Linked DNA regions of Homo sapiens. The protein of the gene in region 1 purifies or fractionates together with the protein of each later gene. This does not show direct contact. Each region holds a gene or a part of one and is shown on either strand. Other genes may lie near its edges. The genes, in order: DLGAP5, MACROH2A2, RNF10, RSRC1 and CORO1C.

The links.
Region 2: the proteins of DLGAP5 (region 1) and MACROH2A2 purify together in Homo sapiens (co-immunoprecipitation; one large-scale study listed by IntAct). This does not show direct contact.
Region 3: the proteins of DLGAP5 (region 1) and RNF10 purify together in Homo sapiens (co-immunoprecipitation; one large-scale study listed by IntAct). This does not show direct contact.
Region 4: the proteins of DLGAP5 (region 1) and RSRC1 purify together in Homo sapiens (affinity purification with mass spectrometry, with the first as the bait; one large-scale study listed by BioGRID). This does not show direct contact.
Region 5: the proteins of DLGAP5 (region 1) and CORO1C purify together in Homo sapiens (affinity purification with mass spectrometry; one large-scale study listed by BioGRID and IntAct). This does not show direct contact.

What each region holds. Positions count from the first base shown.
Region 1 is NC_000014.9:55,151,984-55,157,851, reverse strand, and holds part of DLGAP5 (disks large-associated protein 5), read left to right. Parts: intron 1-3,045; coding exon 3,046-3,235; intron 3,236-5,204; coding exon 5,205-5,262; intron 5,263-5,868. UniProt on the Homo sapiens protein: Potential cell cycle regulator that may play a role in carcinogenesis of cancer cells. Mitotic phosphoprotein regulated by the ubiquitin-proteasome pathway.
Region 2 is NC_000010.11:70,105,978-70,111,845, reverse strand, and holds part of MACROH2A2 (core histone macro-H2A.2), read right to left. Parts: intron 2,814-5,868; coding exon 2,639-2,813; intron 329-2,638; coding exon 163-328; 3' UTR 1-162. UniProt on the Homo sapiens protein: Variant histone H2A which replaces conventional H2A in a subset of nucleosomes where it represses transcription. Nucleosomes wrap and compact DNA into chromatin, limiting DNA accessibility to the cellular machineries which require DNA as a template.
Region 3 is NC_000012.12:120,536,805-120,542,672, forward strand, and holds part of RNF10 (E3 ubiquitin-protein ligase RNF10), read left to right. Parts: intron 1-5,868. UniProt on the Homo sapiens protein: E3 ubiquitin-protein ligase that catalyzes monoubiquitination of 40S ribosomal proteins RPS2/us5 and RPS3/us3 in response to ribosome stalling.
Region 4 is NC_000003.12:158,542,319-158,547,757, forward strand, and holds the end of RSRC1 (serine/Arginine-related protein 53), read left to right. Parts: intron 1-1,016; coding exon 1,017-1,169; intron 1,170-1,864; coding exon 1,865-1,957; 3' UTR 1,958-3,412; downstream 3,413-5,439. UniProt on the Homo sapiens protein: Has a role in alternative splicing and transcription regulation. Involved in both constitutive and alternative pre-mRNA splicing. May have a role in the recognition of the 3' splice site during the second step of splicing.
Region 5 is NC_000012.12:108,720,621-108,726,488, forward strand, and holds part of CORO1C (coronin-1C), read right to left. Parts: intron 1-5,868. UniProt on the Homo sapiens protein: Plays a role in directed cell migration by regulating the activation and subcellular location of RAC1. Increases the presence of activated RAC1 at the leading edge of migrating cells.

The DNA.
Region 1 (5,868 bases):
GTTCAAGGTTACAGCGAGCTATGATTGTGCCCCTGCACTCTAGCCTGAGTGACAGAGCAAGACTCCATCTCTAAAAAATAAAAGGAAGTTTATGCAAAGTGGATTTGGTTTTATTTGCATTTGTATTAAAACTTTTGCTCAGATCTTTTTGAAAGGTAGTAAACGTACTAATTTTCCAATTTAAAAATATTCCAGTAAAAGCAGTTTTTAATATTCAGGAAATCATTTTTTTGTGATTTTCTCACAGTGTTTGTCATAGCTTTTTTTTCCACAGACTATTTTTCTTGAATTGAATTTATCTCAATTGAAATTATTTATTTATAAGCCATAGATGTCCACCAGGAAGTTTTTTCAAAGTAAACCTAAATTGTTCTCTAATACCTGCTATCTGATATTTATAGTGATCCTCAAGTATATTATAATATTCTTGTTAGTTTAGGTATCAAATCTGGTGTACTTTTGTTTCCTTTAAGCAGCTACACTCCCTGGATACCCAGGAATCTCCCACTACTGCTAATAACATGACTCCATTCTACTACTTGTCAAGGATCTTCGTGGTTTTTACAGCTATAAGCTCATCATTCTGTTCTTTCATATACTCAACTCAGTCCTTATAGATAGGGAGATTAAGGTTTATGGCAAAAATTGGTCATTTAAAATTGAGTTTTAGTTACAGAGCACATAGTTGATATGAGGCTAATTACAAAACAGTAGTCCCTGAAGAAGCCCTTCTCATTCCATTTGCCAATCCCTAGAAGCAACTACTTTCAATTCTTACTGGAGTCTTTTGGACTTACTGGAGTCTTACTGGAGTTTTGTTGTTTACCACCATCTCTCTTGACAAGGTTTGATCTTTTTCAAAAACACATTTTTCTTCTGGTAGACTTTTTAATCTTTCTTTCCTGTACTTACTGTTTTCTTCTACTTCCTGGAGATTTCCTCAACTTTCATGCTGGCTATCATGTTTTTAATTCCCAAGAGCCCTTTCTTACTCTCCAAATGTTCATTTTATAACATTCTGCACTTGTTTCATCAGTGTATTGTTTTATCTTTCCAAGGATATTAATGATAGCTTTTATGTTTTCTTCATCCACTATAGACAGTATTTGTTTCAGGGTACTTTCATCTAGTTGTTTTTGGTTTCTGTCTCTTGTATTTAGAGGCTTTCCTCGGGAATCTGGTGATCTCTCACTGCCTGCACATGGTTAAGAATAGGGCACTAAAAAGCTGACTGGAAACTCTCTGCACATGGGTAGGACCTTTACTTTCGGGGCCCTTCTGTTAGCGGGGCCATTATGCTGGGAACCTACACATCACTGCATTTAAGACTTTTCTCATAGTCTACTCAGATTCCCCAGAGAAGATGCTTTCCATCTGCTTCCTGGAAGGTATCATTCTGGCTGCCAGTCTTTCAGGAGCCATGTAGGGGAAGAAAGCTAAGTGTCTCAACACTTTGTGTAAATATTCACTTATTTCCCTTATTTTCCATGTAGTACCCTGTCTCTCAACTGTATCTGGTATCCTCTAAACCAGAGACCCTTCTGTTTTTGGTGATGGGGGTGGGTGATGACAGTTGCTTTGCTGTGCAGAATGAGGAAAGGAATCTGAGCTCTTCTTGTTTAAACTGACTTTGAGCCATTCCTTCTGTGTTTAGCTCCATTTTCATCTCCACTTGCAGAGATACTTGGAGCCACCAGTTCTTTTGAGGGGTTATGTGGTAGAAATTGGGTTGATTCTCATTTTTCTTTCTTTTTTTTTTTTGAGGCAGAGTCTCACTCTATTGCCCAGGCTGGAGTGCAGTGGCACGATCTCAGCACACTGCAAGCTCCGCCTCCTGGGTTCACGCCATTCTCCTACCTCAGCCTCCCAAGTAGCTGGGACTACAGGCGCCTGCCACCACACCCGGCTGATTTTTTGGTATTTTTTTAGTAGAGACGGGGTTTTACCATGTTAGCCAGGATGGTCTCGATCTTCTGGCCCCGTGATCCACCTGCCTCAGCCTCCCAAAGTGCTGGGATCACAGGCATGAGCCACCGCGCCCGGCCAATTCATTTTTCTTGATTGGTGGCTTAGAATTAGTTTTCTTGAGTCTGCTAAGTCCCACTCAACAATCTACATTATAGCTTCCAAAATATTGTTATTGTTGCTATCTCTTCTTTAGTTTCCTTTGTCCTTGTAGAGTTCTGCTTTTTAAGATTATCTGTGTCCAGGCACGGTGGCTCACACCTGTAATCCCAGTACTTTGGGAGGCTGAGGCAGGTGGATCACCTGAGGTCAGGAGTTCGAGACCAGCCTGGCCAACATGGTGAAACCTCATCTCTACTAAAAATACAAAAAATTAGCCAGGCGTGGTGGCGGGTGCCTGTAATCCCAGCTACTCGGGAGGCTGAGGCAGGAGAATCACTTGAACCCAGGAGGCGGAGGTTGCAGTGAGCCAAGATCATGCCATTACACTCCAGCCTGGGCAACAAGAATGAAACTCCATCTCTAAAAAAACAAAAACAAAAAAAAAGGTTATCTCTGTTCAGGCCTGGCGCAGTGGCTCACACCTCTAATCCCAGCACTTTGGGAATCTGAGGCAGGTGGATCACCTGAGGTCAGGAGTTCGAGACCAGCCTGGCCAACATGGTGAAACCTCATCTCTACTAAAAATACAAAAATTAGCCAGGCGTGGTGGCATGCATCTGTAGTCCCAGCTACTGGGGAGGCTGAGGCAAGAGAATCACTTGAAGCTGGGAGGCGGAGGTTGCAGTGAGCCGAGAGATCACACCACTGCACTCCAGCCTGGGTGACAGTGTAAGACTCTGTCTCAACAACAACAAAAAAATTATCTCTGTTCATGTAAAAGTAGTGGGATGTCAAAAGGAAGCAGCATCTAATATGCATTTAAATACTATCTTTAACAGAAAGTCCCAGGCATTTGTCTTTAACAGACATTATTTGACAGGAGAAAGAGGCTAATTGATAGGATTTTCACCGTATTCCTAGTTATAATGAAAAGCAAAAGAACTATTTGGTATTGAGGTGATTTCTCTCATCTTCTAGGACTTTCTGTCTCTTCTGAAGGCCCTTCTCAAAGACTTGGAACACCTAAGTCTGTCAACAAAGCTGTATCTCAGAGTAGAAATGAGATGGGCATTCCACAACAAACTACATCACCAGAAAATGCCGGTCCTCAGAATACGAAAAGTGAACATGTGAAGAAGACTTTGTTTTTGAGTATTCCTGAAAGCAGGTATTTCTTTAACATGTTAATAAGAGTTTAACAGTTGCTGATACTAAATACCATTTCAGATTGTTAAGATGGTAAAAGGTGCCAGACATATATTTTTAATAAATTTCATAATGACCCTGCAACATATAGGCAGTACTCCCTTTTTATAAATGAGGAAACTAAAGCTTAAGGTTTCAGGATACTAAATGGTCACGTTTAGTTGGGTAAATTCTGCAGCAGTAAGAAGAAAAGAAGCAATATGGTATCCTTTGGTGCTAAACATACTACAACTTTGGTGCTCAACAGTTCTGAGCTGAGAAGAGCTCTGTGACTTACTAGCTATGCAACTTTGGGGCAAGTAATTAATTCTCTTTAGCTTCACTTTCATCATCTACAAAGCAGCAGTGCTAATGCCTCCCCAAGGTGGTTGAGAGATGGACACTTTTTACCAGGCTTTGTAGAAAGTACCTTGAGATTGTTTTCTTGACAGATGGCAGAGCATATTGAAGGGGGGGGAGTTAATGTGTACTGAACAACTGTTATGGGCTAGATATGCTTCTAGATTTTTTTGTTTGTTTTTTGGAGGTGGAGTCTCACTCTGTTGCCTAGGCTGGAGTGCAGTGGTACGATTTCGGCTTACTGCAACCTCTGCCTCCTGGGTTCAAGCGATTCTTCTGCCTCAGCCTCCCGAGTAGCTAGGACTACAGACACGCGCCACCACGCCCAGCTAATTTTTGTATTTTTAGTAGAGACGGGGTTTCACTATGTTGGCCAGGATGGTCTTGATCTCTTGACCTCATGATCTGCCAGCCTTGGCCTCCCAAAGTGCTGGGATTACAGGCGTGAGCCACCATGCCCGGCCTACTTTGTATATCTTGTAGTTTACTATTGTTTGCTAAGAAGATTCATAATTGCATTTGAGTCATAAGTACTCTTTAAAAATGTTTTGGATTCCCCAAAACATCCTCAAAGGGCATCATACAAATAAGCAACTTTGTGTAATAAAGGCAAAGTAAAGCTGGACACTAGAAAAATAGAGCATATCTTTTTTAAAAAGTAACTTGAAAGAAGTGGAGATAAATTTTTTTTTTTTTTTTGAGACGGAGTGTCGCTCTGTTGCTGAGGCTGGAGTGCAGTGGCACTACCTCGGCTCACTGCAACCTCCGCCTCCCAGGTTCAAGTGATTCTCCTGCCTCAGCCTCCCAAGTAGCTGGGACTACAGGCGCATGTCACCACGCCCAGCTAATTTTTTGTATTTTTAGTAGAGACGGGGTTTCACCATGTTAGCCAGGATGGTCTCAATCTCCTGACCTCGTGATCCACCCGCCGCTGCCTCCCAAGTGCTGGGATTACAGGCGTGAGCCAAGGCGCCTGGCCAAAACAGATATTTCTAATAAGATACAAGCTAGTAACTTCAGGATTAGAATACCTTGTATTCTAACTCAATTATTGTCTAGCTGGAGTTAGCTACATTTACTTGTTAACAAGCAGCAGACTTAAGAACATTGTAACTCCTGTTCCGCTTTTTGAACTTTCGGATAAAATTATAGAAATAGTATGATTGAAGTCAAGTTTCTTAGCAGGTACCTGGATTAACAAGTAACGAGTAAATGTAGCTAACTCCAGCTAGACAATAATTGAATTGTTGCTTCTGTCTCCAGAAGTCACCTTCTTTTTGACTTTTCTTTAATATATAGCTCTGGATTTGGCTGAGATTCAGAGTATTGCTGGTAGAGCCACCTGACCCTGACTGACCACCATGGTAACAGACTTGTGAGCTTTCTGGGGAAGAATGCATTTAGTTTGTAAGGCCATCCTGCAGTAGCTATAGTCCAAAACTAATCTATCTGGATCACGCCTGATCTTGCACCAGGCTCCATGTTTGATCCATTCCCTAAACTAATTGCCATCATTAAAGGAAAGACTCAAAATACAAGTGAAACAATAACAATATGTTTATGAGTGTAATGCTGCTTTTTTTCTTCTTTAGGAGCAGCATAGAAGATGCTCAGTGTCCTGGATTACCAGATTTAATTGAAGAAAATCATGTAAGTACAATTCCAGTGTGGTTAGATAGCCCAGTATGTCATATGTTTATATCATTATAGAAAGTAACTTTGTAAAGCATCCCCAGAATTTCCGTTGGAAATCTAAATCAGTCATGTAGAATTGTAGTTCTTGTTTCAATGACATTTGGGTTGTTTAAAACCATAGTGTCATTTTGTATTCTTCAACTCATATCAGAATGAATATGGAACCAGTGAACTAGAGCAGAAATCAGCAAACTTTGGCCCCTATTTTTACAAATCATATTTTATTGTAATAGCCACACATTTGTTTATGTATTCTATCTGGCTGCTTTTGCAATACAGTGGTAGAGTTGAGTACTTATGACAGAGACCCTGTGACTCACAAACCTAAAATATTTACTATTTGATCTTTTACAGAAAATGTTTGCCAGTCCCTGAGCTAGAGTATAGGTACTTGCTGAGAAACTTGCCTTCAATCATACTATTTCTATAATATTATCTGAACTAATTGTTGAAGAAGCAGGATAGTAGGATTTATAATGTTCTTAAGACTGTGTCCGGGATGTCATCCTTCTGTTTTTCTTGTATTTAATAGCAACAAGACTTTTAAAATTTGTTCCAAGT
Region 2 (5,868 bases), on another chromosome or scaffold:
TTTTGGAGGAGAGTGTGAAGGGCAGAGGGCTCCCTGCGCCGGCAGGACCTGCCCGGCCACCCTCCACTCCCCTGCCATCACCCCTCCTCTCTCCTTTTAAAAAGCAAAACCCCACTCTTGGGACTCGGGTCGTCCTCCGATCCCTGCTGGAAAGTGCGGCGGCTACTTGGCGTCGAGCTTGGCCATCTCCTGCACGTAGATGCCGATGCTCTCGCTGTCGAAGAGCAGGAAGTACACGTTCTTCAGCGAGGACGCGCTCGAGTCATCAAAGTGGGCTGAGATGGCTTTGAGGGTCACCTGGGCCGCAGTCTGTTTGGGAAAGCAGTTTCTGTGCCAAAGCAAAAGAAGAGCCGATGTCATTTTGGTCCCTGGGACCCATGGGAGCATGAAGTGCCTTTGTTTTTACTGGGTGGGGCCTTGCTGTGTGCAGGGCTAGTCCATGCATGATCTCCTTTGACCCTAGCCAAAGGGACAGCCTGGGGGTGGCAGGTGGGGCATGTTGCCCCCACTTTATAGGTGTCACACTGACTCGGAGAGGCACAATGATTTAATTTGATTAAATTAATTTATTTGTTTTGGGATGGAGTCTCTCTCTGTTGCCCAGGCTGGAGTGCAGTGGCGCGATCTCAGCTCACTGCAACCTCCACCTCCCGGGTTCAAGCGATTCTCCTGCCTCAGCATCCCAAGCAGCTGGGACTACAAGTGCGCACCATCATGCCTGGCTAATTTTTGTATTTTTAGTAGAGACGGGGTTTCACCATGTTGGCTAGGCTGGTCTTGAACTCCTGACCTCAGGTGATCCGCCTGCCTCGGCCTCCCAAAGTGCTGGGATTACAGGTGTGAGCCACCGTGCCCTGCCAAGCACAATGATTTTAGTCAAGGTCACAGGGCTGGCCAAGTGAAGAGTGCCCTGTATTTTATTTTTTATTATACTTTTTTTAAATTAGTTTTTTTTTCAGAGGCAAAGTCTTGCTCCATCACTCAGGCTAGAGTGCAGTGGTGTGATCATAGCTCACTGCAGCTTCAAACCTCTGGGCTCAAGCTATCTGTCTTCTGCCTCAGCCTCCTCAGTAGCTGGGACTAAAGGCGTGTGCCTATAAAAAAATTTTTTTTTTTAAATTTTTTGTAGAGATGGGTCTTGTTATGTTGCCCAGGCTGGTCTCGAACTCCTGGCCTCAAATGATCCTCCTGCCTCAGCCTCCTAAAGCTTTTGGATTTACAGGCGTGAGCCACCGTGCCAGCTCCCTATATTTGATTCTATGTCACCTGACCAAGTCAAGCTTGGCTTTAAAAATGCTAGCCATTCAGCATTAAAAATACCTGGTCTTCAAACAAGCAAACAGAAGTTTTATTAGCTCCCTCCAAACTGGTTTATATACTAACCCAATTGCTTAGTAAAGGGCAAAAATGTATGCTCCAAACCTGTCTTCGTAAGTCCTTTTTTATGCACTTAATATTTCATAGGCACAGGCCCATGTAATTTCAGCATTGTGACTCCGGGCATGGCGGGGTTAATGAAAGTTTGTTAAAGGCCCCAGGTTCCAGGGAGCTACTGATAGTGCCATCCACCAGGCTGGGCCACAGCACCAGCTTCCAGGGACACAGCCAGAATGGTCGTTAGGGGTCAGCCACAGAGACCCCTGGAGCAGGTCCAGGAGGGGCCTGTTAATAGGAATTCTTCCCAATCGCATGTATTCCAGCACAGAACAGCACTGCCGTGGTTCCACCGACGAAAGAATGCATCTCACAGCATCTCTGGGCCTGGAATGCTGAGACTCAATGCTGCTTGCCTAGGTTGATGTGTGATTACAGCAGGAACCTAGGTCTCATTATTTTCCTCTTGGGCTTCCCAGGACACAGCTATAAACCATAGCTATATTATAAAGGACAGCTCTCAAGGTGAGAGGGTGTTCAAAATTAAAGCAATAGATTGGCTAGGGGCATGAAGGGAAAGGATATGTTTTATGTGACAGCAGATATCCTCATTATGTATCTGAAACAATGCCCAGCTGGGATCTGTGACAATCCAGTCATTGCCCAGTCTCCTTTTCAGCAATCACTCGGGGACAGATTTTCACTTCTCTGGGTGTATTCATCAAAGCCTCGAACTCCTGGCTCTGCAGTCTCCCAGAGCAGCAACGGAATTCTCTGGGGATTCTGGAGCCAGAGGTCGGAGATGGGGGGCCTGAGATTCTGCATTCTGACATCGGTCACTGCTGCCTATGGACCACACTTTGAGTAGCAAGGCCTTCGAGCCTGGCGTTTTCTGATCATGTGTCCTGGACATGGACAGCTGGTGGGAATATGGACTTTGAACCTGGAAGGCTCTCAAAAAATAACACACCAGCTGGCCTCTGCCTCCCGCTCCTCCCCTGGGCTAGCCTTCCTCCTGGGGCTTTAACATCAAGGAGGCACTGGGGCTGGCCCCAGCCGGGGAAGACCTGCTGCCTAGGAGCCAGTGGGCTCGCTTCCCCATGGTTTCTGAAGGATGAAAACCGGGTTTCCTGCCCTGTCATCTGGTCAGCATACTTGGCTGTGCTGGCAGCCCTTGGCAACACCCAGATCAGATGTAAGTGGGGGAGCAGCTGATTTCCAGGGAAAAAGCCGGAGGAATCAACTCAGGGGAACTGCATCTTACCTGCCGCTGGGGAAAGGCGGGAACGCGACGGACTTTAGCTTCTTGTCCTCCGCCGCTGACAGGCAGTTTTTGATGGTCTCTTCAAGCTGTTCTTCACATTTGTCGGAGCCCCACTGAGGGATGTGACAGTGGATGACAAATTTGGCTGCGAGTCCACTGGATTGGCTGACGGCGGCTGGGACATAGGAGAGAAAATGCCGCGGGTTATTTCCTAAGGTTTCCTAGGTTATAGCCTAACCTCATCAGGTACCTGTTAGATCTGGAGATAAGGCAGTGATAGAGACGTTGGCTGGGCAGCATCCTGTGCTCCTGATGTGGACTATGTTTAACGAGAGCAAGAGCTGGGCTGTATTGCTTTGCACAGTTAGCACAAGCTTTGGGTAGAAGCGTTTAATGCTGCTCTGATGCGCCATTTTCATATGGTCTGCCAAGTAGTCCCTGGGTTGGGCTACCTCCTCACAATGGTTCCTAGTTAAAGGGACACATCAGATCCTCTCTGGTGGCTGTGGCAGGTAAAGTAATGGCATCCCAAAACATCCACGTCCTCCTCCCTGAAACCTGTGGGTGTTCCCGTACATGGCAAAAAGGACTTTGCAGATGTGATTAAGTGAAGGCTCTTGAGATGGGGAGATGATCCTGGACTGTCTGGGTGAGCCTGGGACCTGATAAGAGGGAGGCAAGAAGGTCAAAGGCAGGAGAAGGCCGTGGGATGAAGGAGACAGAGATTGGAACGATGCAGCCAGGAGCCAAGGAATGTTGCAGCTTAGAAGCTGGAAAAGGCAAGGAAGGGATCCTTCCCTGAGCCTCCAGAAGGAACCAGCCCTGCCAACACCTGGATCTTAGACTCTTAAAACTCATTGTGGACTTCTGGCCTCCAGAACTGTAAGAAGACAAATTTGTGTTGTCTGAAGCCACGAACTTTGTGGTAATTTGTTACAGTAGCCACAGGAAATGAATACAGTGGCTTTTATTTTTATTTTTTTATTTTTAGTTTTTTTTTGAGACAGAGTCTTTTTCTGTCGCCCAGGCTGGAGTGCAGTGGTGCGATCTCAGCTCGCTGCAACCTCCACCTCCTGGGTTCAAGTGATTCTAGTGCCTCAGCCTCTCGAGTAGCTGGGATTACAGGCATGTGCTAATTTTTAAAATTTTTTTATAGAGATGAGGTTTTGCTATGTTGCCCAGACTGGTCTTGAACTCCAGGGCTCAAGTGATCCTCTTGCCTCAGGCACCCAAAGTGCTGGGATTACAGGCGTGAGCCATCACACCTGGCCTACTGTGGCTTTTAAAAAATAGCTGTGCCTGGGCCCCACAGAGTCAGGGTACTGACCACCCAGAGGTCCTGACTCAGTAGGTCTGGTGCAGGGGCTTATGCTTATGTGATTTTAGGACCTTCTATGAGTTGAGAACCACTGAACTTGATTGTGTAGTTCCTTGACAGGGACTGCCATTTGATGATCTCCACATGCCCTGCAGAGAGTGGGGTTTCAAAAGCGGGCTGTGAAACTGAATTAGGCCAGCCTTGTCTCACAATTTCTGTCATACTCCTTTGTTTTACTGTTTACTCCCCTAAATGTGGTTCCCATTGGTGACAGAGTTGATAAAGCCCCGTGGCTGCTAAGCTCGAGGGAAGTCCCTGTGGGACTCCCCAGGGGAGCAGTTCCCTCGGATCTGCCTGAGGCAGCTGCAGCTTCAGCCATGAGCCATGCTTGCCCCCACGCTGCCCGTCTGCGCCCTGTGCCCCTCCAGGAACCCAGGAATCGGCGTAGCAAGGGTCCGTGGCCACTAGGGGCAGCACTTGTAACAGAAACGTGTGTCCGCCGTATTCCAGAGCTGTGTGTGGGGTTGAGGTGAAAGACTGACTGGAAATCTATGATGCCCACCTAGTTTATATAAGTATTTCCTGGCAATGTCCACAGTGTCAGGGAAGTGCTGACTGCACTTCCTCACATGGGTAGAAGCCAAATCCAAGGGACCCCTTCGTCCATCAGGGGAGGCTGTAGGCTCCCTGCCTTCCAGTGCCTAGACGGGGCTCAGTGTCATCACACGTGAACGCCTGAGTGCAGGACCCAGGCCACACAATACACCGAGGCCCTGGGTAGGGGCCCGCCATGCGTGCTGACTCTACGACCACGTATATTTGTGCACCAGAAGCAGAGTGTCCCTCTTTGGACTGAACAATGATGCCCCTAAAACTGGAGGCTGCTCTGCTGAGAACCAAGGACCCTGGAGATGGGCCTTGCCTGCATGGTGCCATCTTCCCGAGCACCTGGCTGCTATTGTATGCCGGACAGAGTTTGGCTTGTTACAGTCATGGCTGATTTATTTCATATATTTTAAAAGTATAATCATGTTACTAGCAGAATGGTATTCCTCTAATGTAAAGTCTTTTTTTTTTTTTTTTTTTTGAGACAGGATGCCCCTCTGTTGCCCAGGCTGGAGTGCAGTGGCTCGATCACAGCTCACTGCAACCTCTGCCTCTCGGGTTCAAGCGATTCGATTCTCCTGCCTCAGCTTCCCAAGTGGCTGGGATTACAGGCACCCGCCACCATGCCCGGCTAATTTTTTGTATTTTTAGTAGAGATGGGGTTTCACCATGTTGGCCAGGTTGGTCTTGAACTCCTGACCTCAAGTGATCCACCCACCTCGGCCTCCCAAAGTGCTAGGATTATACTGCACCCAGCCAAAAGTCATTTTTAAATAAAAGGAATATGTTCCTATTGGCAATGTCAAACATCCAATCAAGTAAAAAATGACTTTCAGGGTAGTGCACGATGACATTTCAGTCCAAAACAAAGTATGTTCATGGCAACTGGAAATGAATAACACAGCTTGTAGCCATAATGCTTTGTAATGTTCTCCAGAGTTGTCAAGGATGAGGGTCAAGTTATTGCAAGGGCTGTGACCCTGGTATTTGGTATAAGCACCTATCCACATAATGACTAGGGGCATTCTCTTACCTAATGTGATGTTGCCTGGTGAAGACCTGCATTCTGAGGGTGGCAGTGCTGCTGCTGGGAGCTTCTAGAACCTTCCCCCAGGTGAGCCATCACAGTTCTTGGGAGTCACCACAGCAAAAGGGGACTCTAGGTTGGCCCCTTGTCCTGCTGAGAGGCTGCTACTGCTGATGCCTGGTTTCCGTGACACTGTGGGTTTTCTTTTAACAGCACCTCAGTTTCCCACAATGGCCTCTCTTCTTCCTGCGTGTCTGGGCCCAGTGCTCTTCTCTCTGC
Region 3 (5,868 bases), on another chromosome or scaffold:
GGCTCCTCTTTAAGCCACTAACATACATTCATTAGTCAGTTGCAATAAATGCCTTAAGTTTATTTCTTAGCAGTAGGTGAAAGCTTGTGACAACTTAAAATAAAACAAACAAACAGGTATTTAAGGAATTTTACTGCTATGTCCTTCACTTTGAATATGTTGGTTAGTGGAATTAACTCTGATTACCCAACAAGATGATACAGAATTCTATAGTAGTTTGACCAAAGCAAGTATTTGTCATTGTTAACATTTCAAATGGGCTGGGTGGCTATAATCCCAGCACTTTGGGAGGCTGAGGCAGGCCGATTACTTGAGCCCAGGAGTTCGAGACCCTGTCCTACAAAAAAATAAATGAGCCGGGCGTGGTGGCACGCACCTGTAGTCCCAGCTGTGAAGAGGCTGAGGCAGGGGAGGAGGAAGAGCACTTAAACCCAGAAGTTCGAGGTTGCAGTGAGCCACGATCACTCCACTGCACTCTAGCCTGGGTGGCAGAGTGAGACCCCGTCTCAAAACAAGAAAACTTCTGTAAAAACTCATGTAGGCCGGGTGCGGTGGCTCACGCCTGTAATCCCAGCACTTTGGGAGGCCGAGGCAGGTGGATCATCTGAGTTCAGGAGTTTGAGACCAGCCTGGCCAACATGGTGAAGCCCCGTCTCTACTAAAAGTACAAAAAATTAGTCCGGCGTGGTGGTGCGCACCTGTAATCCCAGCTACTCGGGGGGCTGAGGCAGGAGAATCCCTTGAAACCGGGAGGCGGAGGTTGCAGTAAGCCAAGATTGCACCATTGCACTCCAGCCCGTCTAAAAAAACAAAAACTCATGTAAAGGCCCTTTGTTAGATTTTACAAATAACACATATGTGCCTTGAGGCAGCATTCTTTTTTTTTTGTTTAATGTGTGTGTTAGAAAGCTTGACCATGTTTGCCACCGCCAGTGTCTGCTTTTCTGGCTTCTGCTGTGCGTGTTCGTTTAGCAAGGAAGGATGGGCTTTGTAGCCAAATCCATGCTTCTTCACTAGCCATAATCCACTGCTTGCATTTAGGAACAAATTAAAAGGCAGGATATGTGGAGATTAAAAGGTTAGGAAACTGGATATTGGCTGATTTTTAAAGTTGAAACTAAGCTGCCTTAGGAACGTAACAGCTAAGACCAGTGCTACTACAGCAGATACTCAGGAGCTCTGATGCAGTGACTTCACGATGAGATGGTTGCTCTAACAAAAGGGTACACTCAAGCTCCGCATAATCCCATAAAAAGATTTCTGCAGTATCTCATAAGCTGAACACTTCATATACTTGATTCTGCTGGGAATCATTGAAAGGACCTCTTGAATTACAGAGTACTGAGTTGAGGGGAAAACAAGCGTAAGGTGAAAAGATAGTTTATCTTTTGTCAAGGTGAAAAGAGCAAGAGTTTTCAGTATTCAAATATTTAAGTCACTTTTTTTCTCCCCCTTTTCTACCTCGTGGAAGAAAGCCCTTTGGTTTCTATTCTGTAAACTGTCATTAATGGCCATTTGCTTCCTAGCTACATGATTAATTTCTTTGAGATTTTGTTCCAGTGGCTGGCTTAAATTTGCCCTTCATTTGTACACAGGAAATATGTAAATTTGGCTACCAGGATTTTCTTGATCTTTCCGGCTAGAGTCGCATACCACAGTTTCTTTGCCTGGGCTAATTGCCTGAACATTTATATAACATTCCTTTTCTTGATTATATTCCTACAGCTTCATTCCAGTAGTGTTAATAGGTATTTCTGAGAACATGCAGCAGTAAATATCCTGTGAATATAGCTCAGAGGAGAGAAGGTGGGTTAGAAAGTGGGGAAAGTCATTTAGAGGGAGCAAAGAAAGAGAGGCAAGAGAGAAGGTAGGCCGTTTATGGGCAGGCAGTGGACTCTGGCCAGGAACCAGGCTCTTGTCCCATCCCCCTGGGCCGATAGAACTGCCAGGGAGGTTAAGGGAAGGTCAGGTATTATGAGGCAGTTATTTTGAGGTTGGTGGTATGAAGCACTGCCCTGGCATTCTTCCTGTTATTCTGGTACCAGAAACCAGGTTACTAGTGGTAATCTGCCTTGAAGAATGCCTCTGAGCTGTAAATGGACCTGGAGATTTTAATGGCTTTGAAAATTGAGGTGATTTGAAGCCTTCAGTAAAACCACTTAGAGAAATTAAAAGAATTTCAGGGCCCGTTGGCTGGATTCCTTGGTTTATATGGCTTCATTGGAAGTCTAGTGGGTGCTCTTGACAGGAACGCTTTGGATTTATTAATGATAGGCTTTCAAATCATAGTAAAACTGTGTGTCAGCCACTATGGTAGGCATTTTACAGAAGTTTTCTTTCTTAATCCTCATGATTCTATGAGGAAGTATGGTAGAATATTAGTCCTGTTTCACAGAAAAGAAAATAGAGGCTTAGCAGTGTTAAGAGTGATTTGTCCAAGTAAATTTTTATGAAGTCCTAGGCGGTATTTTTCAATAAGCTTTGTATAATCACACTTAGCAAGCAGATAACTTACTGGCATGTGCATCATTCCTGATACCACCTCTCTCTTCCTTTCATTCAGAATTACTAATTTCAGCTGGATTCAATTTGTTGTCAGTTGATTCTGTAGTAAGGCCATATGTTGCCCCTCTGGAGGTGCTTGTCAACTACTCTGGATGATGGGTAAGCAACTTGCTTGTGATTACAGCATGAATCAGCAGCAGAAACTTGCTGACTGGTATTCTGACCTCTAGGCCGAGCCACCTGTTAGAACTAGAGCTAGAAATGAAGATGCCAAGTAATTTAACTGTGAAAAACTTGTGGCCCTTAATTTGGTAATGGGGGGAGGCTGAGATATACCTACTGCTACTTGGTGGAGACCTTTCCATTAGGGAAATGTGGAACAACTGAGAAGCTGGGTTAAGTTTTTAAGTCATTTATTTGTCGACTCTGGAGCCTGAGTTTAGTGGTCTTGTCCATTTTGGAATGTGTCTTGACAGTAGTTCTTGGCAGTTGTTCTCAGTGGTGGCTGTGCATCAGAATCTCCTCAGGAACTTTTTTTTTTCCCTCAAGACAGTCTTGCTCTGTCACCCAGGCTGGAGTTCAGTGGCGCGATCTCAGCTCACTTTAACCTCTGCCTTCCCGGTTTAAGCAATTCTTCTGCCTCAGCCTCCTGAGTAGCTGGATTGCAGGTGTCCACCACCACACCGGCCTAATTTTTGTATTTTTAGTAGAGATGGGTTTCGCCATGTTGGCCAGGCTGGTCTCAAACTCCTGACCTCATGAGGAACTTAAAAAAAAAAAAAATAGGGGTGTGTGGGGCCCCTTCCTAGGAATTTATTATCTTTTTTTTTTTTGTAGAGATGGGGGTCTCACCATGTTGCCCAGGCTGGTCTCAAATTCCTGGCTTCAAATGATCCTCCCACCTTAGCCTCCCAAAGTGCTGGGGTTACAGGCATAAGCCACTGTGCCTGGCCTTTTTCTGATTCTTTAAGCCTAGATTGAACCCGTGGGTCCTGGGCATTCATAATTTAAAAAGTCTGTGCAAGTGATTCTGGTGTGCAGCCAGGATTGAGAACCACCACTCTGAGATTTAAAACTTCACCCATAGTTCCTTCTCCCAGGAACTTGATATTTTTTGTTTTCCAAAATCTAAAGTGGATCATCTTATCACTCCTGTTCTACCCTCGAGTTTTTCCCATGTATATCCTGGCAAGTTGTCCACAAAACATTTCAAAAATAATACTCTGAATTTTATCTCTGGGTCCCAGGCCTGATGGTACCTTCAACCTTTAGCTGCCTTTTGCCTGGGTCTAGAGATAAGAGCCAGTCTCTCACTTGACATATCTGTCTTCATACCCTTAGGTAACTGGAAGACGAGAAACGAGTTGATTTTGGCAACTAAAATCACTAATCATGATGTGGTCAGTTGTTATGTGTTTTGGAAATGAGCAGTTTACTGTCTTATCAGTGAGCATTTCTGTAAGCATTATGAAACTGTTTCCTTGCCAGTGTGGTAATAAGTGAAGAAATGAAGACAGCCTTCTTGCTGAGTGCCAGTTTACTTTCTTTTTTTTTTTTTTTTTGAGACAGAGTTTTGCTCTTGTTGCCCAGGCTGGAGTGTAGTGGTGCAGTCTCGGCCTTGCCGCAACCTCCACCTCCCGGGTTCAAGCTATTCTCCTGCCTCAGCCCCCGGAGTAGCTGGGATTACAGGCATGCGCCACCATGCCCAGCTAATTTTTTGTATTTTTAGTAGAGACGGGGTTTCTCCATGTTGGTCAGGCTGGTCTCGAACTCCCGACCTCAGGTGATCCGCCCGCCTCGGCCTCCCAAAGCATTGGGATTATAGGCATGAGCCACCGTGTCTGGCCATTTTACTTTCTTAATAAGCCCTTGCCATGTAGAATCTGGCTTTACCTAAATCTATGCAAACCGTGAGGTGCATCTTGAAAGCAGCAGTTAGGGTCAAACAGGTAGGGTCCAGGATCATCTGAAACAGTCTTGGATAATGAGGTTGGAGGATATGTGTTTTCTTTATATACCTATCCTCGTAGAATCTCCTTTGCTTGAGGTGATGTGAAATGGAGTTAAGGAAAGCAAAGCAAGAGAATGTGGCTGAGTTAGCTGGGGTTCTGCATCCCCTGAGTTTTCCTTTTTTTTTTTTTTTGAGACGGAGTCTCACTCTGTCGCCCAGACTGGAATGCAGTGGCACGATCTCCGCTCACTGCTAGCCCCGCCTCCCGGGTTCACGCCATTCTCCTGCCTCAGCCTCCCGAGCAGCTGGGACTACAGGCGCCCGCCACCAAGCCTGGCTAATTTTTTGTATTTTTAGTAGAGATGGGGTTTCACCATGTTAGCCAGGATGGTCTCTATCTCCTGACTTCGTGATCCACCTGCCTTGGCCTCCCAAAGTGCTGGGATTACAAGCATGAGCCATCGTGCCTGGCTTTTTTTTTTTTAGAGACAAGCTCTCGCTCTGTCACTTAGGCTGGCATGCAGTGGTGCAAACATAACTGACTGAAACCTTGAACTCCTTGGCTTAAGAGATCCTTGAACTCTTGAACCACTGTGCCTGGTTTATCTTTTTCTTTTTTTTTTTGAGATGGAGTCTCACTGTGTCTCCCAGGCTGGAGTGCAGTGGTGCAATCTTGGCTCACTGCAAGCCCCGCCTCCCAGGTTCACACCGTTCTCCTGCCTCAGCCTCCTGAGTAGCTGGGACTACAGGCTCCCGCCACCACGCCTGGTTAATTTTTTGTATTTTTAGTAGAGACAGGGTTTCACCATGTTAGCCAGGATGGTCTTGATCTCCTGACCTCGTGATCCACCCGCCTCAGCATCCCAAAGTGCTGGGATTACAGGCGTGAGCCACCGTGCCTGGCCTTTTTCTTTTTTTGAGACAGAGGCTCACTCTGTAGCCCAGGGTGGAGAGCAGTGGTGCCATCATAGCACACCGCAGCCTCAACCTTGGCTTAAGCAATCCTTCCAACTCAGCCTCTCAGCTAGGACTGCAGGTGTGTGCCACCACATTGGGCTAATTTTTAAATTTTTTGTAGAGATGGGGTCTTGCTATGTTGCCCAGGCTGGTCGCAAACTCGTGGACTCAAGTGATCCTCTTGCTTTGGCTTCCCAAAGTGTTGAGACAACCGGCATGAGCCACCAAGTCCAGCGCTGAAACTTTGCTTTCTAATTGTTACTACTAGTGCCATGTTTGACACTAACTGTTGCTAACTGAAGTAATAGGTAAAAGTTTAGTTTTTAAGTTCTAACTTTATTTATTTGTTTTTTGAGACAGAGTCTCACTCTGCTGCCCAGGCTGGAGTGCAGTGGCGTGATTTCAGCTCACTGCAACCTCTGCCTCCCGGGTTCAAATGATTCTCATGCCTTAGC
Region 4 (5,439 bases), on another chromosome or scaffold:
ACAGGAGTTCGAGATCACCCTGGCCAACATGGCAAGACACCGTCTCTACTGAAAATACAAAAATTAGCCGAGTGTGCATGGTGGTGTGCACCTGTAATCCCAGATACTCGGGAGGCTGAAGCAGGAGAATCACTTGAACCTAGGAGGTAGAGGTTGCAGTGAGCCAAGATTGTGCCACTGCACTCCCACCTGGGTGACAGAGTAAGACTCTGTCTCAAAAGAAAAAATTATGCTAAATGAAAGAACCAGTCATGAAAGACCACATATTGTATGATTCCTTTTATCTGAAATGTCTAGAATAGGCAAATCCATAGAGAAAGAAGATTAATTGTTACCTAGGATGGAAAGGTTGGAAGGAATGGGGAATGATTGCTAATGGTATGAGGTTTTGTGGGGGATGATGAAAATGTTCTAAAGTTGATTCTGGTAATAATTGCACAACTCCATGGATATGTGAAAAGCCATTGAATTATGTACTTTAAAAGGGTAAATTGTATGGTATATGAATTCTATAACTCAATAAGGCTATTTTTCTAAAGATAACCTTTGAATTTACTTTTCATACCTAAATTGGCCAACTAAATGTTGGATATTTGTTGTAAGCTTGTTTTGATTAATAGAATTTAGATATATGAAATATATGTATATTTCAATAGTATAGGCACGTAAGTACCAATTTCTTAAGAAAAATGTGCTTATCATAAGAAATGATTGACATTTTCTCAGCATTTTTCTATTTGTTATTCCTAAAACAAATACAATATAGTTATTCCTATATTCTATTTCTATATATCTATAACTATATTCCTAAATATAGTTATTCCTAAACAAACAAATATAAAAATAAAATAACTGTATTTCTAAAACAAACAAATACAAAAAGTAGGGCCTTTTTGGAGATGGGTATCATCTCAAAGGAGACTAATTGAACAGTTGTTATTCAAAATCAGAAATATTTTTGAAGTAAAACTCTAATTGTGTATTGTGTTGAAATTAATATGTGTTGTTTCTTTCAGTCAGTGGAACCTAGTGAAGTGAAACAAGCAACTTCAACATCAGGACCAGCATCAGCAGTTGCTGATCCACCCAGTACTGAAAAAGAAATAGATCCTACCAGCATCCCTACTGCTATCAAGTACCAAGATGACAATTCCCTGGCCCATCCAAATGTAATATCCTTAAACTTTACGAATGTCAGTTGAAGTCTAATTTACTGAAATTATTTCAATCTGTTATCCTTTTGTGCTAACACCAAGGAGACCATTGGAGGAAACAGGTTCATATTCCCTTGCTAAAAATAGGCATCTGGCCCCCAGGCCTTTAGAACTGTTATCTATATTTGAATACAGTAGGGTCCAACTCATGTTGCCTAACCTGTAGAAGTATTCTGTCTATGGTTAAGAAAAATAGACAAAGAGAAGCATTTTTTCCTTTTTTTTTTTTTTAGCTGAATTGATCAGCACCATGAGAAGTGTTTGTTTAAAAATCTAGCACTAAAAGTTCCATTTCTGAGCTCTACTTTGTTCATTATCAGTGAGCACATCACTAACATCATACTTTGCTGTCTTCCATGAAATGTTGTAATTCTGCTGTTTTGGAAAAGTTATAGGAAATAAACTTCACAAATATAAGGTACAAAATTGTTAAGCAATGATGTTGATACTAGTAGTTCTTTTACTCCAAGAATTTCTGAGCATTACTAATTCCAAATAGATAGTCATCAATTAAGAGGTCATCAAGAGTTAAACAGTATCCAAATCTTGTGTTGAGAGATATATTCTACAAAGGTGAGTTCTGTCATTTTAGGTCAAATTCAAGTTATTGGGAGACAGTAACATTTTTTCTTTTTCTTTTCTTATTTCAGTTATTTATCGAGAAAGCTGATGCTGAGGAAAAATGGTTCAAGAGATTAATTGCTCTCCGACAAGAAAGACTAATGGGCAGTCCTGTGGCCTAAGTAATATACATATAGTTGGATTGGATTGTCAGCAGTAACATTGGAAATTTAGGTTTTTAAATCCCAATATTAACTTTTTACTCTTAAAAAGAATTTTGCTGATTATATATAAAGGTAGTCTCATTTCATTTGTCTCTCATGTAGGCTTGAATATTTGTTAATTTGAATTAAATCAAACATTGTAAAAATTAAAACAAAATTTAAGATTGCATGAAAATGTTATACTGTTAATAAAGCTAAACATAAATAAGTCTGTTAAAATGAATGGTAGACACTAGTGTTTCTTAGTGCAATTCAAAAAATGTCAAGATGTCATTTAAAGACACAATTTTGATTAATTATGCATACATGAGAATTGAATTACATGCTATAAATATGAGATTTCATCTTCCGTATGGTATTCAACCATTTTTAAATATTTTATTTCACCATATTGCAAATTTTTAGGCACAATAAAAAGCACCCTAAACAATGTAAGCAGAATGTGCATGTTAAAGAACATATTTATGGAAAAAAAATTTTTGAAACTTAAATAAATTGGTGATTTTGCTTAGAGATCAGCTTCTACTAGATGCTCCTTTACAACATGTTAGCAGATCTCAGCTCATTGTTTTAGAAATCACATGTTCATGCTAGACCTAACCAGTTGGCCAAATACCTATGATGGAGAAATCATTTCTGAGAAAACTGATAAGAGCTCTCACTTCAGTCTTACTTACCCCACTGCTATTCCCTGTGGAGAAAGCCGGCTAATTGTTTTGATAAGGCTATCTGCCATTGTAGAATACCTTTCTCTAGTAGCTGAATGACAATCAACTATACGTTCCATACTAAACATGCCAGAGATAGGACTTTTAGGCCTTGCTTTACAAAACTGGTTTTTAACAGCTGACATGAATATTTCCCGTTTCTATTTTCTTTTTTTTTTTTTTTTTTTTTTTTTTGAGACGGAGTCTCGCTCTATCCCCCATGCTGGAGTGCAGTGGCGCGATCTCAGCTCACTGCAAGCTCCGCCTCCCAGGTTCACGCCATTTTCTTGCCTCAGCCTCCCGAGTAGCTGGGACTACAGGCACCCGCTAACATGCCCAGCTAATTTTTTGTGTTTTTAGTAGAGATGGGGTTTCACCATTTTAGCCAGGATGGTCTATTTTCTTCTGTTGTCCAGTCACTAATTTAGTCTCTGCGAAGACTGTAGCTCAGAACAAAAGATAAGCAAAAAAAGTCTTCAGGGTAGGACTGCCAACATATAGGACATTTTAATGCCATCTTCTTTATATTTCTGGGACATTAAAATTCAAATCTCTGTTGAAAATGAAAAATGTAAAACTTAGTTGCAAACAGTATAGAAAATAAGTGATGATGAAATATTTGTTTTCATACAAACATGCTTTCCCATTCTAAATAGATGCTAGTTTTCTTTTTTCCTTGGCTGTAAATAAAAGTGCCCCAAATGAACCGAGATTTGTGTGGTTTTTAACATAGATGTATACAATTTTAGTGACTTAAAAAGGGGTTACAGTTTATGAAATATTTTTATTTCATACTTTGTATAACTTATAAACTATAGAAGTACTATCACCCTATTGGAAAGTATATGTTAGTGGTCTGGGCAAGAATATGGGTTATCATTTGGGCCACTAATGATTCTCCAGAGGACCTGGGCTAGGCAGTTTTCTCAATATCCCTGATCTTCCTTATCTATAAAACAGTGAAAATCTGGTCTACTTCAATTATATTTAATACCAGTGTTCCTCTGTGGCAAGTACCCCAAATACAGAAGCTTGAACTGTGACAGAATTGTTTTTTGGGGTTTTTTTTGGGGGGGAGGGCGGTGGTTTGAGACAGAGTCTTACTCTGTCATCCAGGCTGGAGTGCATTGGTGCGATCTCGGCTCACTGCAAGCTCCGCCTCCCAGGTTCATGCCATTCTCCTGCCTCAGCCTCCTGAGTAGCTGGGACTACAGGCGCCTGCCACCATGCCCAGCTAATTTTTTGTGTGTGTATTTTTAGTAGAGACGGGGTTTCACCGTGTTAGCCCGGATGGTCTCGATCTCTTGACCTCATGATCCACCCACCTCGGCCTCCCAAAGTGCTGGGATTACAGGCATGAGCCACCATGCCTGGCCGAAAATCAAATTTTTTTAATGAACTAAACTATGGTCCCTACAGGAATTCGGTAACTACTTCCTTCCTCCCTAGTTTTCAACATGATTCATTTTTATATATTATTAACTTCGTTTACCTGCATTCCTATCAAAGACCACAATATTACCACACAAGCCAAATCAAATTTAATAAAAAGGACTGCATAGAACATGATCAAACATATTGCCTAATTCAAGCTAGCCTTCTTTAATATCCTTATATGGTGAGTCTATAAAACAGAATAATTCCTTTCATGTCACTTGATTAATGATAATAATTTGGACATACATGAGACCTTAAGTGTTTTACGAAACATTGATTTCTTACAAAATGATGGGTACTGATAATACAGGTTGAGTTTTCATTTCTGACAAGTAAGTATATTCTCAAGGAAAATGAAATAAGAGCATTTTTCCTGGCACTCTCTAGTTATGAGGAGTCAAAGAGCTAAAGATATGAGCACAGAATACTTTGAATCATTCACCTCCTTTGCTTCAGCATCCTAACATGTGAAATGAGGATACTAATTGCAGACCTGCCTACTTTGATTTTTCAGTAAAATGACATAAAAGAAAGCCCTTCATAGAAACTTCTGCTATTTATGCCAAGGGAACATTTGACATGATAGACATCTTAGTGAAATGTGGAACAAATAGTTGCTACACTCCAACTTGAATGTGTTTATGTGTGTGCTTGAGCTGCCATGGTCAATAGTTGCCGTTCCAGCGATTTCCTCAGCCTTCCCTGCTCTTCTTCCCTGCCAAGGTCGTAAGAAACCTTACTTACTCTGCAATTAGTGACCTACCATCTACTTATTTGAGAAATCTCAGTTCTTCTTTACAGTCAGATTTACCCATTTATTCATGAATATCATTTTGAGTACCTAGTTCATGCTGGGCACAGTAAGATGTGCTTGGGGGATGCATACCTGAATCCAGTAGAGATCCTGCCCTCAAGAGGCTTAGTTGTGAAGCCCAGACATGTAAATGATGTCAGAGATATAGTACTTAGTGGCAGAGGAGAGGACTTGGTTGCAAAGAAGAGAGAAATTACTGTAAGTTAGAAAATTAAGGAAGTCTTCATGGAAGAAATCAATCAAACTGAGTCTTGAAGGACAAGAAAGCTGGAGCCATAGGAACTCTCAGTCACCCACTTATATCTTCCTGATAGCTATTCTAGAAGGCTGGGAACTACTGCAGTTTTAACCTAGGACAGAGTACCTCTCATGAAATACCCAAGTGGCCCTGCTCAGTCAATCTTATCAAAAATCTAGGCAAAATTTCAGGTTCCTAGTACCCCTCTGACTCTCTATTTCTTTCTTTTTGTGGAGAATAAGCT
Region 5 (5,868 bases), on another chromosome or scaffold:
CATGCCATTTTCCTGCCCTCAGCCTCCTGAGTAGCTGGGACTACAGGCGCCCGCCACCACGCCCGGCTAATTTTTTGTATTTTTAGTAGAGATGGGGTTTCACCATGTTAGCCAGGATGGTCTCGACATCCTGACCTCGTGATCCACCCGCCTCAGCCTCCTAAAGTGCTGGGATTACAGGCATGAGCCACCGCACCCGGCAAATATTTACAATTAGTAGTCCTAGGCCATAGAAAACATCTTTATTCCTTTCATCTTCTAGGAAAATGGAAAGACTGACAATATCACAAGTGTATCATGCAAAGTTGAAATTCAATTACTCAATTAACATTTATTGAACAGCTACTATGCACCAGGCAATATGCTAGGAAATGGAGGCACCAAAAAATGTAAGATATCCTCTACCTTTAAGGAACATGGAATATAGCAGTATTATAAGGTGTTCACTTTCACAAACTGTAAAATAATTCTGTACTCAATCTCTAGTCATTTAATCCCAGATGTAATTAGTATTAGCATAGAAATCACTAACACTAGTGACACCCACAAATTACACTTTCACCTACCTTTATAACTCCATAACCAAACTATATTTACATTTTACTCTAACATATTGTATAAATGCATAACCTATTATCATCACTTTCCATAATCAGGGCCATCTCATCTACCCATCTTACACTACTCTTCCCTAATTACACCAGTTCTGAGTCAGCCCAGTACTATTAGGCACACCCTCAGGCAGGATCTCACTCCCAGTGTCCCACAAACACTGACTCTCCAACGCCTGTCTCCTGAATTCCCACAGAGCTCACAGTCTATACTGCAGAATTCACCATCAAAGAGTCATGTGCTTGAGGGCTGGAGGAGGCTTGTAATGTATTTTTTAAACTTTTACATAATTTAAAAGTAAATCAAAACATTAAGCTTGCCATAAGACTTTGTGAATACGAATTTTTTAAATGATACCAGAAAAATCAAGTCCCTAATATATTTTGCATCATAAAATGTTTGAATGAAAAGAGTTCTTTGAAACCAGTAGTTCAAACCCTTCACAGAGGCACTAACAGAATGGAGAGGTCAATAATTTCCCACTGTTTGATGAAAAAAGTGACTTTTTGATAAGTTTATAAAAGAATAGAAAAATAGACAGGACGAGTGCCCAGCTCTGGCCATTATAAGATGCCCCAATTTACAATCACTACCATGCCCTGATCAACTTTCCAAAGGTCACAGAAACCAAGCCACTTCGCCAAAACCTAAGACCCTTTCAAGCTGTGAAGTTCCCAAATGGAAAAGAAAAAAAAAAGATCAGAAAGTATTTTGAAAAAAATTTAGCAGAGTCACTGTTTTGGAGTGACAGGAAGAACCTTTCTAAAGCAGGCATGGTTTCTTCCTGATTCCAGGTATCAGGACTAGCCTCCTTACGTGGGGTCTGCCTGACTTCACATGCCTCTGCTCAACTTTCCCCTTGAAACCTTGCTGTAATGACTGAATGCAAACATTTCAAAGAGACAATCTGTTTATCAGTAAGGAACCTCCTCTTTAAAAATATTAACATTGTACACCTCTAAAAGGGTTAAAGAACATGAGTGAAATGACATGAATAAAGCCTGTAGTCATCCCAACCCTGAATAACAGCGGTAGTCTAGCAGGGAAATGAATTTGAACCATGTGCTTTGCTACCATGATTTAAAGAAAGTGAGCTTAACCAGGGAAGTAGAAGCTTCAAATTAAGAGAGAGATGAAGGAGGATGAAGAACAAGGAGGGCCAGCACAGACCTGGAGGGCTGCAGTGGCATGAGACCCCTGGACGCCACACAGCCTGCACAGGGAGGCTCCTGGGGCATGGGGCATGAGTCCTTACTTCTCTTTCACATGACTACCAGCTCCCAAGATCCAGAATTCCACTATCACCATAAACAATTTCAAAAACTGCTGTGAATTAAACAGATTCCTTCAGTCTAGGCTGGGAACGTACCCACCACTTACAATGCTGAATCAACACAATAGATAGAAATTACTACTAGTAGATCTGAGTTCCAAATAACTGAGTTAGACTCTGGAACACAACCCAGTCTTGAGTTGGGGACCAAATGTACACACTGCCTGCCTCCAAAACAGAAATTTCATCTGGGCTCTTGCTCATTCACTTTCAGAGAAACACACAGTTCATAACCATCCTTTGAAGGTATGATATGTTATTTGTTCTACTTGATAAAAGTAATTCAGTCCACTGCACTCAAGACACTGTCATAATGCATAAAAAGATCAAACTAGCAGTCTTAGGGAGAAAAAAGAAGACTTCCAACTTATCTTTTCCTACAGTAGCACTGTAAAGCAACAGTGGCCCACAGAAGAGAGAGCCTAAAGGACAGTTACTCTATTTCTAAAACAGACAACGTGCATCTTATTAAATATCACCCCCAAAGAACTGTGGCCAGCCCTCATTGGCTCCAGCCTCTCTCTTGCTTGCCAAGAAAAACTAGGATGACATTGTTAAGCTAAAGATACTACTAACCACAAAATTAATTCACCATCTAGCTTCCAAAGTGACTAGTTTCCTAATAAATCCCTCTGCTTAACAGAGATGACAGCGCACTTTCACGTGTGTTCCTCAGTCCCCACTCCAGCCACATTTGAGTTTTTATGTTAATAAATCAGTCAATTCTTTAAGTTCCTAAGAATGAAAGGAATTAGAATCTTTAACTAGGAAAGAATGCTTGACCATTACGAAAAGGAATTTAAGTATCTTTCCTGTGAAGTAAGCAAATAATGGTGATTAAACATTTGTCATAAGGAAGGGATGCTTGTGAATTTTGTCATGCACCCCTATGATATCAAAAGTAGAAAATACAGCCTGACGGCTTCACTCTCCTAACACTTCCTTTCCCATGTGTGTCTACTATGGTCTCTCATGAAAAATCTACAGCTTTGTTCATCCAGAATGAAGGCCTCAGCAGTTGTTGAGACATGGGGACCCACACCCAGTTCCACAATGGAGCAAGAAAGTCTCTTACACCAAACCACCATGTGACCAGACTTGCAGTCTGTCTTGGTTTCCCAAAGACAGAACAACCACATTGTGAAACAATAATCAACCTTTGCTAATCCTAAGTGGTTTTCATTATGTCTGTTACAATCTATATATTAATAGTTCAGTACTGGGCCTGTGTTGTTCCTGTCTAAACTTGGTGTTTTCAAATACAGACGGCCTACTAATGCCAATTTTTCTGGCAAGATGCAATGCAAGGGCACCTTTGCAATAATAATCGGTCTTCCAAATACAAGACAAATCTTTAAAACCACTGCTTACTAGTGCTCAGATTATAAGACTGAGGAAATTTAAAAGGATCAATAAAATACTGTCAAGGAGCTTTACATTAAAAATAGAAATCAAGTTTACCAAAGGTTTATCCAAGAGATATCATGTATTTTCAAGTTTCCTAAAAATGCATCTAAAAATCCTCCTAAAAACCTGGACCAAACTTCACAGTTTAATACATGCACAACCTGAATATGTGGGAAAAAGCAACAACAACAACAACATAGGTACATGCTACCAACTGTGGTGATTAACTGAAGAAAACTCCGTGAATAGGCTTGGTTTGCAGATCTGGCAAAAGAGCATGACGAAAGGCTAAGCAAATGGAACTGCTGCACTGGGTCAAAGACTACAAAGGGAAAGCCATGTCAGGTTCACATTGTTAAATAAAAAATCCACACTATACTATAAATTCACACAACTAACTATAAAAATTAATTCATACCACACAAAGGAAGGGGCAGTTAAGTTCCTGATCTTGGGTAAATCTGTCAAGCTCCTGCCACCAAAGTCTCCTCATCTGTAAAATGAGGAATAGACCAGCCCACAGTGCTTCCTGTTCTGGCTGTGATTCAGAGTCACCAGGGAACTCACACCCAGGCAGCTGGATTCATATAGGTCCACAGATGATCATCACAAGGCAGTCAAGAATGAGGACCTCTGTACCTGAGCAATAATCTCCCAAATCTCCCAAAATAATATATCCTTTAAAAGATGGTGAGATACTGGTGCCAAATATAATCCATTATTCATAAATTTTTAAGAAGAAATGTAGATCATTGCCTGACCAAAGGGGAAAAAATATAACTGCCTTCCACATACAATGTATAGGCCTTCCTACTCCCATTTATAGTCTCTCTCACTCTGACCTTTGCATTATATTAATTACTCATTACTGCAGCAAACGGGAGGAACTGTATTTTTGTTATTAATGTAAGATCCAAATGACAGGCCTAATTTAACATACCATAAAACTATAGAGGCTCTTTTCCCACACAGGATGTTACACTTTATCACACTGTAACCAGAAGAGTTATCTCAAGCACTGCAGTGCAATCTCCTTCAAATCCTAAAAAAATCCATCTTTTGCCAGGAACTTTCCTTAAAATGGACAGACAGACACACAGACAGAGAGACTGAATACACAGACCTGAATAGAGAAGACTGTCTGAATAGACATTTCCAATTCAGACAGATGCAAAAACACTGGAGGTGTTTTTAAGACCGCCTTCCCATCCTAAAATTAGACATTTTTTGCCCTCTTCAGTGACTCAACTTTGATTCAAAGTCTAAAATCCTCAGGTGGGAGTAGGAATCCATACCCTTAATAGCTTAATGTCAGATGTAAAATGTATTAAACTTACTCTATTTGCTTCTCTGCAGTTCCATTCATTAACAGACATTTAAGAGAGAAGAGAGGGAACAGGAATGTATTCAGTACCTACTCTGTATTAGGCACTTCATATAATTTTCCTTGCTTAATCTTGCCAATGACCCTGCAAGGTAAGCCTTTTGCATCTCCACACTACAGAGGAGGAAAGTGAAGCTCAGGGAGGTGAGGGAGCTGGCAAAGTCACAGCTAGCAAGAAGCGGAGCCAAGAGTGAAGCCCAGCTCTATCTGGCCCTAAAGGCCTGCACCCTCACGGCCTCAGTTCCCCTAAATACAAAACTCTCTTAGAACGAGAACTACAGAAGGTACCCATAGCTCACTGTCCCTAACTAGACAAAAAAGTTGACATTTTTCTTTCTCTTCTGTACTACCTTGCCACAATCCAAGCTTTAACGAACACACAAAGAAAAGGTATCCCGAAATGGCCAACTGGTTTCTCCTAATTCTCAGAAAGGTGCTAAGTGAATTTATTTATTTATTTATTTATTTTTTTGAGACGGATTCTTTCTCTGCCGCCCAGGCTGGAGTGCAACTCTGTCGCCCAGGCTGGAGTGTGATGGCGCAGTCTAGGCTCCCTGCAGCCTCTGCCTCCCAGGTTTCAAGCAATTCCCCTGCTTCAGCCTCCTGAGTAGCTGGGACTACAGGCGCGTGCCACCACACCCGGCTAATTTTTGTATTTTTAGCAGAGACAGGTTGGCCGTGTTGGCCAGGCTGGTCTCAAACCCCTGACCTCGTGATCTGCCCGCCTCAGCTTCCCAAAGTGCTGGGATTACAGGTGTGAGCCACCACGCCCGGCATGAAATATTTTTAATTAAAGTATTTTAAAAATAAACATAATCTGGGAGGCCGAGGCGGGCGGATTATGAGGTCAGGAGATCGAGATCATCCTGGCTAACACAGTGAAATCCCATCTCTACTAAAAAATACCAAAAAATTAGCCGGGTGTAGTGGCGGGCGCCTGTAGTCCCAGCTACTTGGGAGGCTGAGGCGGGAGAACGGCGTGAACCTGGGAGGCAGAGCTTGCAGTGAGCTGAGATCGTGCCACTGCACTCCAGCACTCTAGCCTGGGCGACAGAGTGAGACTCTGTCTCAAAAAAAAAAAAAATGAACATAAGAACACAAAATATAACTAAAGAATACTAATTTGAGTCAG